Linked DNA regions of Homo sapiens: region 2 is linked to region 1. Evidence: fine-mapped expression QTL. Tissue or cell type: whole blood. Region 1 holds a variant in brackets; the other region holds the start of a gene. All regions are shown on one strand. Distances are between the middles of the regions.

Region 1 (5,000 bases):
GGCACACACGCACAATAGGATATTGCTCAGCCTTCAAAAGGAAGGCAGTTCTGGCCAAGCGTGGTGGTTCATGCCTGTAATACCAGCACTTTGGGAGGCTGAGGTGGGCGGATCATTTGAGGTCAGGAGTTCGAGACCAGCCTGGCCGACATGATGAAACCCCATCTCTACTAAAAATACAAAAATTAGCCAGTCGGCACGTGCCTGTAATCCCAGCTACTCAAGAGGCTGAGGCAAGGCCAGGCACGGTGGCTCATGCCTGTAATCCCAACACTTTGGGAGGCCAAGGCGGGCGGATTGCCTGAGCTCAAGAGTTTGAGACCAGCCTAGGCAACATGGTGAAACCCCATCTCTGCTAAAATACAAAAGAAATTAACCAGGCGTGGTGGCGTGCACCTGTAGTCCCAGCTACTCAGGAGGCTGAGGCAGGAGAATTGCTTGAACTCGGGAGGCGGAGGTTGCAGTGAGCCGAGATCACACCACTGCACTCCAGCACTCCAGCCTGGGCGACAGAGTGAGGCTCCATCTCTACAAAACAAACAAACAAACAAACAACAACAACAACAACAAAAACACTGAGGCAAGAGAATCGTTTGAACCTGGGAGGCAGAGGTTACAGTGAGCCAAGATCACACCACTGCACTCCAGCCTGGGCAACAGAGCGAAACTCCATCTCAAAAAAAAAAAAAGAAAGAAAAGAGAAAGAGAGAGCTCCAGAGATGGATGGTGGTGATGGTTGCAGAACAATGTGAATGTACTTAGTGCCCCAAACTGTACACTTAAACATAATTAAAATGGGCCTAGCACGGTGGCTCATTCCCAGCATTTGGGAGGCTGAGGTGGGAGGATTGCTTGAGCTCAAGAGTTTGAGACCAGGCTGGGCAACATAAGCAACACTCTGTCTCTACAAAAACTACAGAAATTAGCCAAGCCTGGTGGCTGCACACTTGTAGTCCCAGTCACTTGGGAAGTTGAGGAGGGAGGGTCACTTGAGCTCAGGGGTCAGAGGTTGCCACGAACTGTGATTGTGCCACTGCACTCCAGCCTAGGTGACAAAAGCAAGACTCTGTCTTAAAAACAACACAACAAAAAATTGGCTGGACGCAGTGGCTCTTGCCTGTAATCCTAGCACTTTAGGAGGCCGAGGAAGGCAGTTCACTTGAGGTCAGGAGTTCGAGACCAGCCTGGCCAACATGGTGAAACCCTGTCTCTACTAAAAATACAAAAATTAGCCAGGCGTGGTGGCAGGTGCCTGTGGTCCCGGTTACTCTGCGGGCTGAGGCACAAGAATCACGTGAACTCGGGAGGCAGAGGTTGCAGTGAGCCGAGATCACACCACTGCACTCCAGCCTGGGTGACTGAGACTCAGTCTAAAAAAAAAAAAAAAATTGAAATGGTAAATTCTGTTGTGTACGTTTTACCACAATTAAAAAAAAAAAAAGCGGAATGGGAGTGGAGCTAAATGAGGCTAGTTTAGGGTGGGAACCGGGGCACAGGAAGCACGTCACTTCTGGTGGGGAGTGGGGGGAGGGAGAAGACTGAATAAGCCGTGAACTGGGCAGCTGTGACACGCGCACCTTGTCACCTTGTCACCAATTTCCTGCCCGGGATCCCAGAGCTACCCTTCTTGGAGCCCACAGGGGTAAGGTTGAGCTTCTCACTTTCCCTCCAATGAAGCGTGGCAGCATGGGAAGGATTTTGGCAGTGTCGAGGTCTGAGTTTTAGTCCGTTCCCCTCTCTGGGTCTCAGTTTCTCGCTGGTAAGTGCAGGGGTTGGGGAATCCCCAGCGCTCCTGTGGCTCGACATTCTGCACTCTGTGAAGCTCCTGCCCTGCCCTGCTGGGTCTCTGAGCTCACGCACTTGCCCTGGCGCTCCTTTCCTGATTTGTCTCCCCTCTCTCCTTCCTCTGCTCTGCCATCTCGGTGGCCGATGTAGAAATGTGGGGCTGCCTCCTTATTTAGGGGCCCACGTGGGCTGTGATCTGGACCATCTGAGCTGATGCAGAGGGGAAGGGACAGTCCCTGTTCTCCCC[G/A]GCAGGCGTGGTGGGTTCATAATGAATCTCAGTCACTCACTTCCTACCTGCCTCGGTTCGAGGGGGTCTTTCCTAACCCATGGCTCACATTCCCATGAAGCCTCTTCTTTCTAGGCACGTAGAAAGGCCCTTTTTCCCTTTTATTATTTTTGTAAAATTTACTAGGTAACGCATAAAAAGCTTATGTAACATACATATACATCATACTGCACAGTAATATACCAAACACACCTGAAGCTGCCACTCAGCACAAGGATGGAGTATCACCAAACTGCAAACACCACTTATCTGCTTTTTTTTTTTTTTTTTTTTTTTGAGACAGAGTTTTCATTCTTGTCGCCCAGGCTGGAGTGCAGTGGCACAATCTTGGCTCACCACAACCTTCGCCTGCTGGGTTCAAGCGATTCTCTTGTCTCAGCCTCCCAAGTAGCTGGGACTACAGGTGCGCATGCCACCATGCCCAGCTAATTTTTGTGTTTTTGGTAGCGACAGGGTTTCACTATGTTGGCCAGGAGAGTCTCGATCTCTTGACCTCATGATCCGCCCACCTCGGCCTCCCAAAATGCTGGGATTACAGGCGTGAGCCACCACACCTGGCCACCACTTGTCCACTTTTATGCTACTTGCCTCCCACCCACAGGTAGCCACCCTCTGGAATTTTGTGTTTATTGTTCTCTTATTTTTAAGTGCTTTATTACATATGCATCTCTATTTATTTATTTATTTATTTATTTACTGAGATGGGGTCACACTATATTTCCCAGGCTGGAGTGCAGTGGCTATTCACAGGCATGATCATAGCACACTACAACCTCGAACTCCTGGGATCCAGTGATCTTCCCACCTCAGCCTCCTGATTAGTTGGGACTACAGTCTTGAACTGCTGCACCTGGCTATGCCTATTTATTTTTATTTTATGAAACAGTTATATAGCGTTACTGTGTGCTAGGCACTGTTCTAAATGCTTTAAAATATTTACTTATTTTATTTGTTTAATCTGCACAAAAACCCTATGAGGAAGATACTATTATTGATTCCTTTTTGCAGATGAGGAAATTGAGGCACAGAAAGATTAAGTGATTTGCTCAAGGTCACACAGATAGTGAGAAGTAAGGCCGGGAGCAGTGGCTCATGCCTGTAATCCCAGCACTTTGGGAGGCCAAGGCAGGAGGATCATGAGGTCAAGAGATAGAGACGGTCCTGGCCAACAAGATGAAACCCCATCTCTACTAAAAATACAAAAATTAGCTGGGTGTGGTGGCGTACGCCTGTAGTTTCAGCTATTCGGGAGACTGAGGCAGGAGAATAGCTCGAACCCGGGAGGTGGAGGTTGCAGTAAGCCAAGATCGCGCCACTGCACTCCAGCCTGGGCGACACAACGAGACCCCGTCTCAAAAAAAAAAAAAAAAAAAAAAAAAAGAGAAGTAAACACAAAGACATGTCTGGTTCTTAGTGTGACAGCGTTTCTAGGGCATACATCTAAGAATGGAACTGTGAGTTACAGGGTATAAGAATATTCCGTTTACAAGATAATGCCTAATTATCTCTGAGAGCACCAATATACACTCTCATCAGCAGTTAGAAGGGTGCCTATTAACCTACGGCCTCTCCAACAATTGGTCTTGTCATATTTCTTAACTTTTGCCAACCTAATACATATAAAATAGTATCGGTCCCATTGTAATTTTAATTTTAATTTCCCTGGCTACTCGAGCTAAATAATCTTTTCACTTGTTTAGACATGTTTCCTTTTCTTTGAAATGTTTCTTTGTGTCTTTTTTTTTTTTTTTTTTTTTTTTGAGATAGAGTCTCACTCTGTCACCCAGGCTGGAATGCAGTGTCGCGATCTCAGCTCACTGCAAGCTCCGCCTCCTAGGTTCACGCCATTCTCCTGCCTCAGCCTCCCGAGTAGCTGGGACTACAGGTGCCCGCCACCATGCCTGGCTAATTTTTTTGTATTTTCAGTAGCGATGGGGTTTCACCATGTTGGCCAGGATGGTCTCGATCTTCTGACCGCGTGATCAGCCCGCCTCGGCCTCCCAAAGTGCTGGCGTCACAGCCGCACCCGACCTGTTTCTTTGTATCTTAGTCAAAGATACCAATTGTTGATTTTATGATTGACAATTTCGAGGTCTTGCCCCAAGGATATGGAAATACTCTCCTACATTTTCTTATAAAGAGTTTCTTTCACATATAAATCCTTAATCTAAATGGAATTGATTTCTATATTTGGTGTGAGATAGGGATACATTTTCCCCTTTTTTTCTCTATATGGTTAATCAATTGATCCTGTGTCATTTAACAGGCTCTTCTCTTACCCAGTGATCTTCTATGTCATCTTTGTCATGCATCAAAGTTTCAAACAAGCATAGGTGTATTTCTGGGCTCTTTATTCTGTTTCATCAGTTAATTTGCCTATACCTACGCTAACACCATATTTTACAGAAAGTCTTAATATCTAGCAGAGCAAATCCCTCACCTTATTCATTTCCTTTAGGGGCGTCTTGGTTCTTTTGTTCTTCCATATAAACCTTAAAATCAGCTTTCAGTTTCCATGAAAAACCCTACTGGGGTTAATTGGAATTGCACTGACCCTATAGATCAGTTACAGAATAATTTACATCTTTATAATATTGAATTTCCTATCCATGAACATGTGTTATCTCTCCATTTATTTAGATTGTCTTTAATATTTTTCAATAAAGTATTATAATTTTCTTACTATAGGTCTTATAGTTCTAGGTTTTGTTAGTTTTCTTGCTCTACTTTTTTGACTGTTATAATTGATGTATTTTTTAAATTATGTTTTTGTATGTTACTGATACACACAAGAACAACCAATTTTTGAATATTGATCTTTTAGCTAGTTGCCTTGCTAAAATCTCTTATTACTTTGAGTCACTTGCCTGATGATTCTTTTGGATTTTCTACCTGGGTAGTCACGCCATATACAAATACCGATGGTTTT
Region 2 (5,907 bases), 21 kb after region 1:
GATTCACTCCCAGGCCTGGGCCCCGCTGCCCACCACCCCAGCCCTACCTGAAGCCGGGGGTACATCAGCACCCACAGTCCCTGTGGCACTGGGGGGTGGGGGTGGGGGCACAGCTCTCCTGAGATGGGGGAAAGAAAAAGACCCCCATCAGAGGCCCAGGGGTGGCCTCTGGAGTTTCACCCACAAGTTATCTCCACCGACCACCAGCCCCTGCACAGCTCTTCTGCAACTTCCAGCCCAGAGCAGAACCCTGGCAGCACCCAGCCTCACTTACACCTCCCTTTCCCTGGAGGCAGGACAGTGCTGAATCCTGGGCACGTCCTGCAAGTAGGGCTGACAAGCAGGGGTGGGGAAGAAGGGGGCTGGCCAGGGCAGCAGGGCACCCGGGGAGGGCATCAAATAGGGCAAGTAGTGGTGGTGAAACACCAAAGGCCCTTTCTCCCGCACGTCCATCTCCTCCTCCTCCTCCTCAGGCTCTTCCTGTGGAACCTCCAGGTAGACCTGGGGATTGTGCAAAACAGGGAGGGGAAATGAGAATCTACCATCAGGCTCTCCCCACCGCCACTCCTCCATTCCCCTAAGTTATTTCCTCCAGATAGGCTTTGTAAGAATGGCTTGTGGCCAGGCATGGTGGCTCACGCCTGTAATCCCAGCACTGTGGGAGGCCGAGGCGGGCGGATCACAAGGTCAGGAGATTGAGACCATCCTGGCTAACACGGTGAAACCCCGTCTCTACTAAAAATACCAAAAAAAAAAAAAAAAAAATTAGCTGGGCATGGTGGTGGGCGCCTGTAGTCCCAGCTACTCAGGAGGCTGAGGCAGGAGAATGGCGTGAACCCGGGAGGCGGAGCTTGCAGTGAGCAGAGATCGAGCTACTGCACTCCAGCCTGGGCGGCAGAGCGAGACTCCATCTCAAAAGAAAAAAAAGGAAAAAAAAAAAAAGAATGGCTTGTGTAGGCGGGGCGCGGTGGCTCATGCCTGTAATCCCGGCACTTTGGGAGGCTGAGGCGGACGGATCACAAGGTCAGGAGATCGAGACCATCCTGGCTAACATAGTGAAACCCCGTCTCTACTAAAAACACAAAAAAGTAGCCGGGTGTGGTGGCAGGCGCCTGTGGTCCCAGCTACTCGGGAGGCTGGGGCAGGAGAGTTGTTTGAACCCAGGAGGTGGAAGTTGCAGTGTGCCGAGATTGCATCACTATACTCCAGCCTAGGTGACAGAGAGAGACTCCGTCTCAAAAAAAAGAAAAAGAAAAGAAAAGAAAAAAAGAATGGGTTGTGTTTATTGAGCGTTTACTACATGCGGACAACAAATTGTGGAGACATTTACTCCTGTAGCTCAAGGACGTTGAGCAACTTGGCCACCCAGTTGATTCCAGGTGTGACCCCCAGAGCTGGGGCCAGGAGTCCACTGAGCTGTCCCCGGCCTCACCCCCGGCCCCTGGACCCACCTATGTGTCATCACTGAGGACCCAGGGGTGAGGGGTGGCAGTAGCTCCTCAGGGTCTCCTTCTGTCTGGATTCCTTGAACCCCTCTCCGCCTCCTCCGAGCTGAACAACATTCTCTCTCCACCCAGTCCCTGCTTCTCCTGACCTCAGGATGCCCACTATTGGCTGAGTAAGGCTCAGCCTTAGAGCTATATGCACATGCATGCACACACACGCTTGCACACACCCCCACTTGCACACACTTGCTTGCACGCACACACTTGCTTGCACGCACACACTTGCCTTCACAACCCGCTCGCACACACGTGCACGCACACCCTTGCACACGCACGTGAACACACACTTGCACACACATATGCATGTACACAGCCTTGCACACACACACGCATGCACACAGACACCCACTTGCACACACATACACACACACACTCTTGCACACACACACTGCCGCACACGGTTTCCCCCATTCTGTCTCCTGACTCTGCCCCTGCCAGCCTGGATGGGGGACACACCCTTCGCCTCCTCCAAGGGTCAAAATCCTACCTGGCTTTCAAGGGCTGGTTCTAAGATCCTCTGCTCCTCCAAGGAGCCTGTCCCCATCCCCCAACCCTATGTGCACTTGTGCTTTGTACCTCTCCATGTGCCATCACAGCCAACCTGGCTTTGTATCCCTAACCATTCATTTATTCATTCACTCGTTCAACAAATATCAGCTGAGCCCCTACACGGTGTCAGGCACCAGGCCAGACGCTCATGATGCATGGGGCAGGGTTACCAGGGTGCCTACCTTCCTGGAGCCTTAAGTCCAGTGGGGGAGGCACTACAGGGAAACCTCCTTGAAAACAAGACCTCGGTGGTCTGGACTTTGGGGGGTCTCTTCCCCGCCCCAACCTTTCATGGAGGCTGAAACATGACAGATGCCAAACAGCCCCAGCCAGAGAGACGGGCTGGCTTCCTGCTCCTCTGTCTCCCAGTTCTTTTCCCCCCTGAACAGGAACCCCAGGTGGATCCGCATCCCTGGACCCACAGGTGAGCGACCCCGGCGGCCCACCCACACGCACCTGAGGGCAGGGCGAGGCAGGCCGGGGCTGCAGCGCTCCAGCCACCAGGCGACTCAGCAGCAGCTGGTGCATCTGCGCGTTCTGCAGCATCATCAGTTCCAGCAGGTCTAGGAAGCGGGGTTCAGCAAGCCCACGCCGGGCCTCCGAGTCCCCCTCCCCCTGACACCCCTGTCCCGGGGGTGAAGAATGGGTTGGCGGGTTGTGCTGCGGGGACTCCCAGAGGATGTGCGAGGCAGAAGAGGGTGAGTGGTGGTGATGGTGGGGGTGGGGTGGGGGGACCCGGGAGTCTCACCTTCCTTCACGCGGCCTGGCTGCGGGGGCGCAGGTGGGACGGCCCACGAGAGGGGCTGCAGGAAGGTGACCCAGGGCTGGGGGTGTGCGCGGAGTCAGCCAGGTGGGGTGGGGGGAATGGATGGGGACACGTCGCGAGCCCCAACCCCCCCGGCCAGTGGCCTCCCTAACCCCGCAGGGGCCAGGTTCTCTCCTCCCCGCCCCGCGGCCTCCCTGCTCCCTGCCACGCCTCTTCCTCTCGGTTTGGGGCTGTCTCTCCTCGTCCCCCACCCCTCCAGGATCTGGCCCCTCCAGGGACAGCTCCCCACTCTGCCGTCTCCCAAGCTAAGGCAGGATCTGCTCCCGGGCTCAGCCCTCACCGTCGGGACTGCGCTCTGCGGTGGGGAGCGACCCCAGCTTCCGCCCGCCCCAGAGGCCATGGCTGGCGCCGGTTGCCTTGGCGACGCCGAGGACGCCAAGGTCTCTTCCCACGCATGCGCGGAGCCCGCCCGTGCTCCTGGGTCTTCCATCTCCCTGCTCCCTCCTGTCTCCTCCTCCGCGGACTTGGGGTCCCCAGGAGCCCTCCCCCGCCACCAGGAGGCCAGTCTCCTCCCCGGCATGTCCACCTCCCGCCGCGCTGCTCGGGGCTCCCCTCCCCTCCCCTTGCTGGTTCCCAGAACTGGGCCTGGGTTAGTGCGGGGAAGGGGGGTGTGTTTGTTGAGTGAATAAGCGAGTGACTGGGGAGGCTTGGTTTCGGGGTCCCAGAGCCCGATTGACTCAGCTGAAAAGTTCAGGAGAAACAGAGACTTTTGCAGGAGCAGGCTGGGGGCTAGGGCAGACGAGTGAGGAGGACAAAGGGTCTGTTCCCTGTCACTCTGACAGAGAGAGGGGCTTCCTGCCAGGAAAGAGTGGTTTCTGGAGCAGACCAAGGAAGGAAACACCGCCCGAATTCACGGAAGAGGCTGAGGACTCTGGCTGGAAACACGTGGCCGGCTTCTCGCCTCTCTCCTTGCGGCTATTTGCCCTGTTTCCTGGCCAAGGTGAGCCACTGCTCCTCAGACGAGGAAAATCGTGGTGACTTCAGCACCCGCGTCCCCAGTACTGTCTCCCGTACTGGAAAAGTTACCAAAGCACGCGTTCTTTTGACAGGAAGTTAGCAAGGTCTTCCTTGCTTAAGAACAGGTGAAGGGGGAGATCTATTTCTGCAGCTGTGACCATCCTAAGATAGGCCCCCGGCAGCAGTCAAGGAAAATCCAGACAGGAAGCTGGGCTTAGCACCCCGAGTAGCCCTTCCCCCACTCTCCATGTCAGCTCCCCTTCCTGCCAGTCCTGGAGTAAGAACCAGAAAGACCATTCCCACCTCCTCCTTTGCTCCGTAGTACCTGTCTCTAGGGGAGCAGGCTTGTGGGCATTACTTTACTGTCCCCATGGGTCTTATGGCTTCAACAGCCATTAACAAGCTGAGATCCAGGCACTGGGGTCACAGCCCCCCAGTGAGTAGAACACAGAGATGCCTCTCTCCATCTCCATTCTCATTCCAGGTAGAAAGAGAACAAGCCATTTTGCTCATCATCAACAAACCTTGACCAAGGAAGTGTCTGCGTGTGCAATGTGCCATCTGAACCCTGGAGGCATAAGCAGTATGGTCACTTGTCCCAGCATTGTTGGGAAGTGAAAATGTATCCATGGAAAGAGAGCAGAAAGATAAGACTACGCCCCGGGGATAATGAAAAAGAGAGGACTTGACCGCTGAGGGATGGAGTTCCAAGGAAGTCAGTCCTTGATGGGGCCAAGCAGCAGGGGAAGACGGGCGCTATCAGGCTGGGGACAGAGCCCAAGCCAAGACCCAGGTGTATGAATGGACAGGACCTGAGATGACCCGGTGGGTCAAACTGTCTGACTGTAGAAGAGGAGCTGGGCAGAGAGCAGAGGTCCAGGGACAGGCCAAGGTTTGGAATGCCAAGGTTTGGAATTTAGGCTTGGCCCTGTGGGTAATGGAGAGCTATCAGTGGGTTTCAAGCAAAAGGGAGATACCAAGTGCTGTGGCCAGCCATGTTTCAGGAAGATTGTTCTTGTCCACCTTTGTTTATGTCAACCACATTTAGAAGTAACAAATGTCTGATAGGGGGTCAGGTGCGGTGGCTTGTGCCTATAGTGCCAGCTACTCAGGAGGCTGAGGCAGGAGGATCGCTCAAGCCCAGGGATTCAAGGATGCTGTGAGCTACGATCACGTCACTGCACTCCAGCCTGGGAAACAGGGTGAGACCCAGTTTCTAAAACAAACGAACAAACAAATGTCTGATGGGGATGCATCCTCCCAATAGAATACTATTCAACCATGGATAATGTGGGAATAGAATATCTCTGTTGATGTGAAAAGTTGTCCAAGACAGTTGAGTCAAAAATATCAGTAAGCATAGTAAGATCTTATTTTTGTTTTAAAAATCATATGCATAAGTCCAGGCACGGTGGCTCACGCCTGTAATCCCAGCAGTTTGGGAGGCCAAGGCAGGCAGATCACTTGAGGTCAGGAGTTCGGGACCAGCCTGGCCAACATGGTGAAACCCTGTCTCTACTAAAAATACAAAAATTAGCCGGGAGTGGTGGCGGGTGCCTGCAATCCCAGACACTCAGGAGGCTGAGGCAGGAGAATCGCTTGAACCTGGGAGGTGGAGGTTGCAGTGAGCCGAGATCATGCCACTGCACTTCAGCCTGGGCAACAGAGACTCCATCTAAAAAAAAAAAAAATTCATATGCATATACATGTGTGTATGTACATGTGTGTGTGTGTGAATACACATACACACACACACACAGATCCAACTGTGGAGCAGCTGTCAGAGTTGGCCGACCCGCAGCCTCCCCTAGAGTCTTCTGCAGAGGGTTCCTGCCCTCACCTACAGCCCCTCCACCTGAGGACACCTGGCCACAGGTAAGACAGGCCAGAAGGTGGCACAGGAGCAGCCCACAAGCAATAATGGATGGGAGTTGATAGCTAAACTCGCAGCCTCCTGGTCTCAGTGCGACAACTCTGAGGTGTCTCCCACAGAGCCTCTCAGTGATGCCTGTGGGCTTGTGCCCAGGTGGCCCACAGTGACCTGCTCAGAAACACACACTTTACTGCCTT

The links. PIP is the estimated chance that this variant, and not a neighbour inherited with it, causes the effect.
Region 2: PRR29 starts here. The variant in region 1 is fine-mapped to the expression of PRR29 in whole blood (TOPMed, PIP above 0.99).

The regions. Positions count from the first base shown.
Region 1 is chr17:64,017,165-64,022,164 of GRCh38, reverse strand. ICAM2 (intercellular adhesion molecule 2) reads left to right here and starts at 1,532. Exons shown (of 5, transcript NM_001099789.2): 1 at 1,532-1,642. RefSeq lists enhancers at 1,093-1,142, 1,363-1,452, 1,198-1,698, 1,793-1,912. The variant G/A (reference allele first, on the strand shown) is at 2,033.
Region 2 is chr17:63,995,678-64,001,584 of GRCh38, reverse strand. PRR29 (proline rich 29) reads right to left here and starts at 3,234. Exons shown (of 6, transcript NM_001164257.2): 1 at 3,161-3,234; 2 at 2,803-2,878; 3 at 2,511-2,617; 4 at 275-501; 5 at 48-118. The coding sequence starts at 3,220. It overlaps PRR29-AS1 (PRR29 antisense RNA 1), which reads left to right and starts at 1,686. Exons shown (of 3, transcript NR_126169.1): 1 at 1,686-3,260; 2 at 3,663-3,820; 3 at 4,322-5,514. RefSeq lists an enhancer at 2,071-3,048 and a silencer at 3,302-3,351.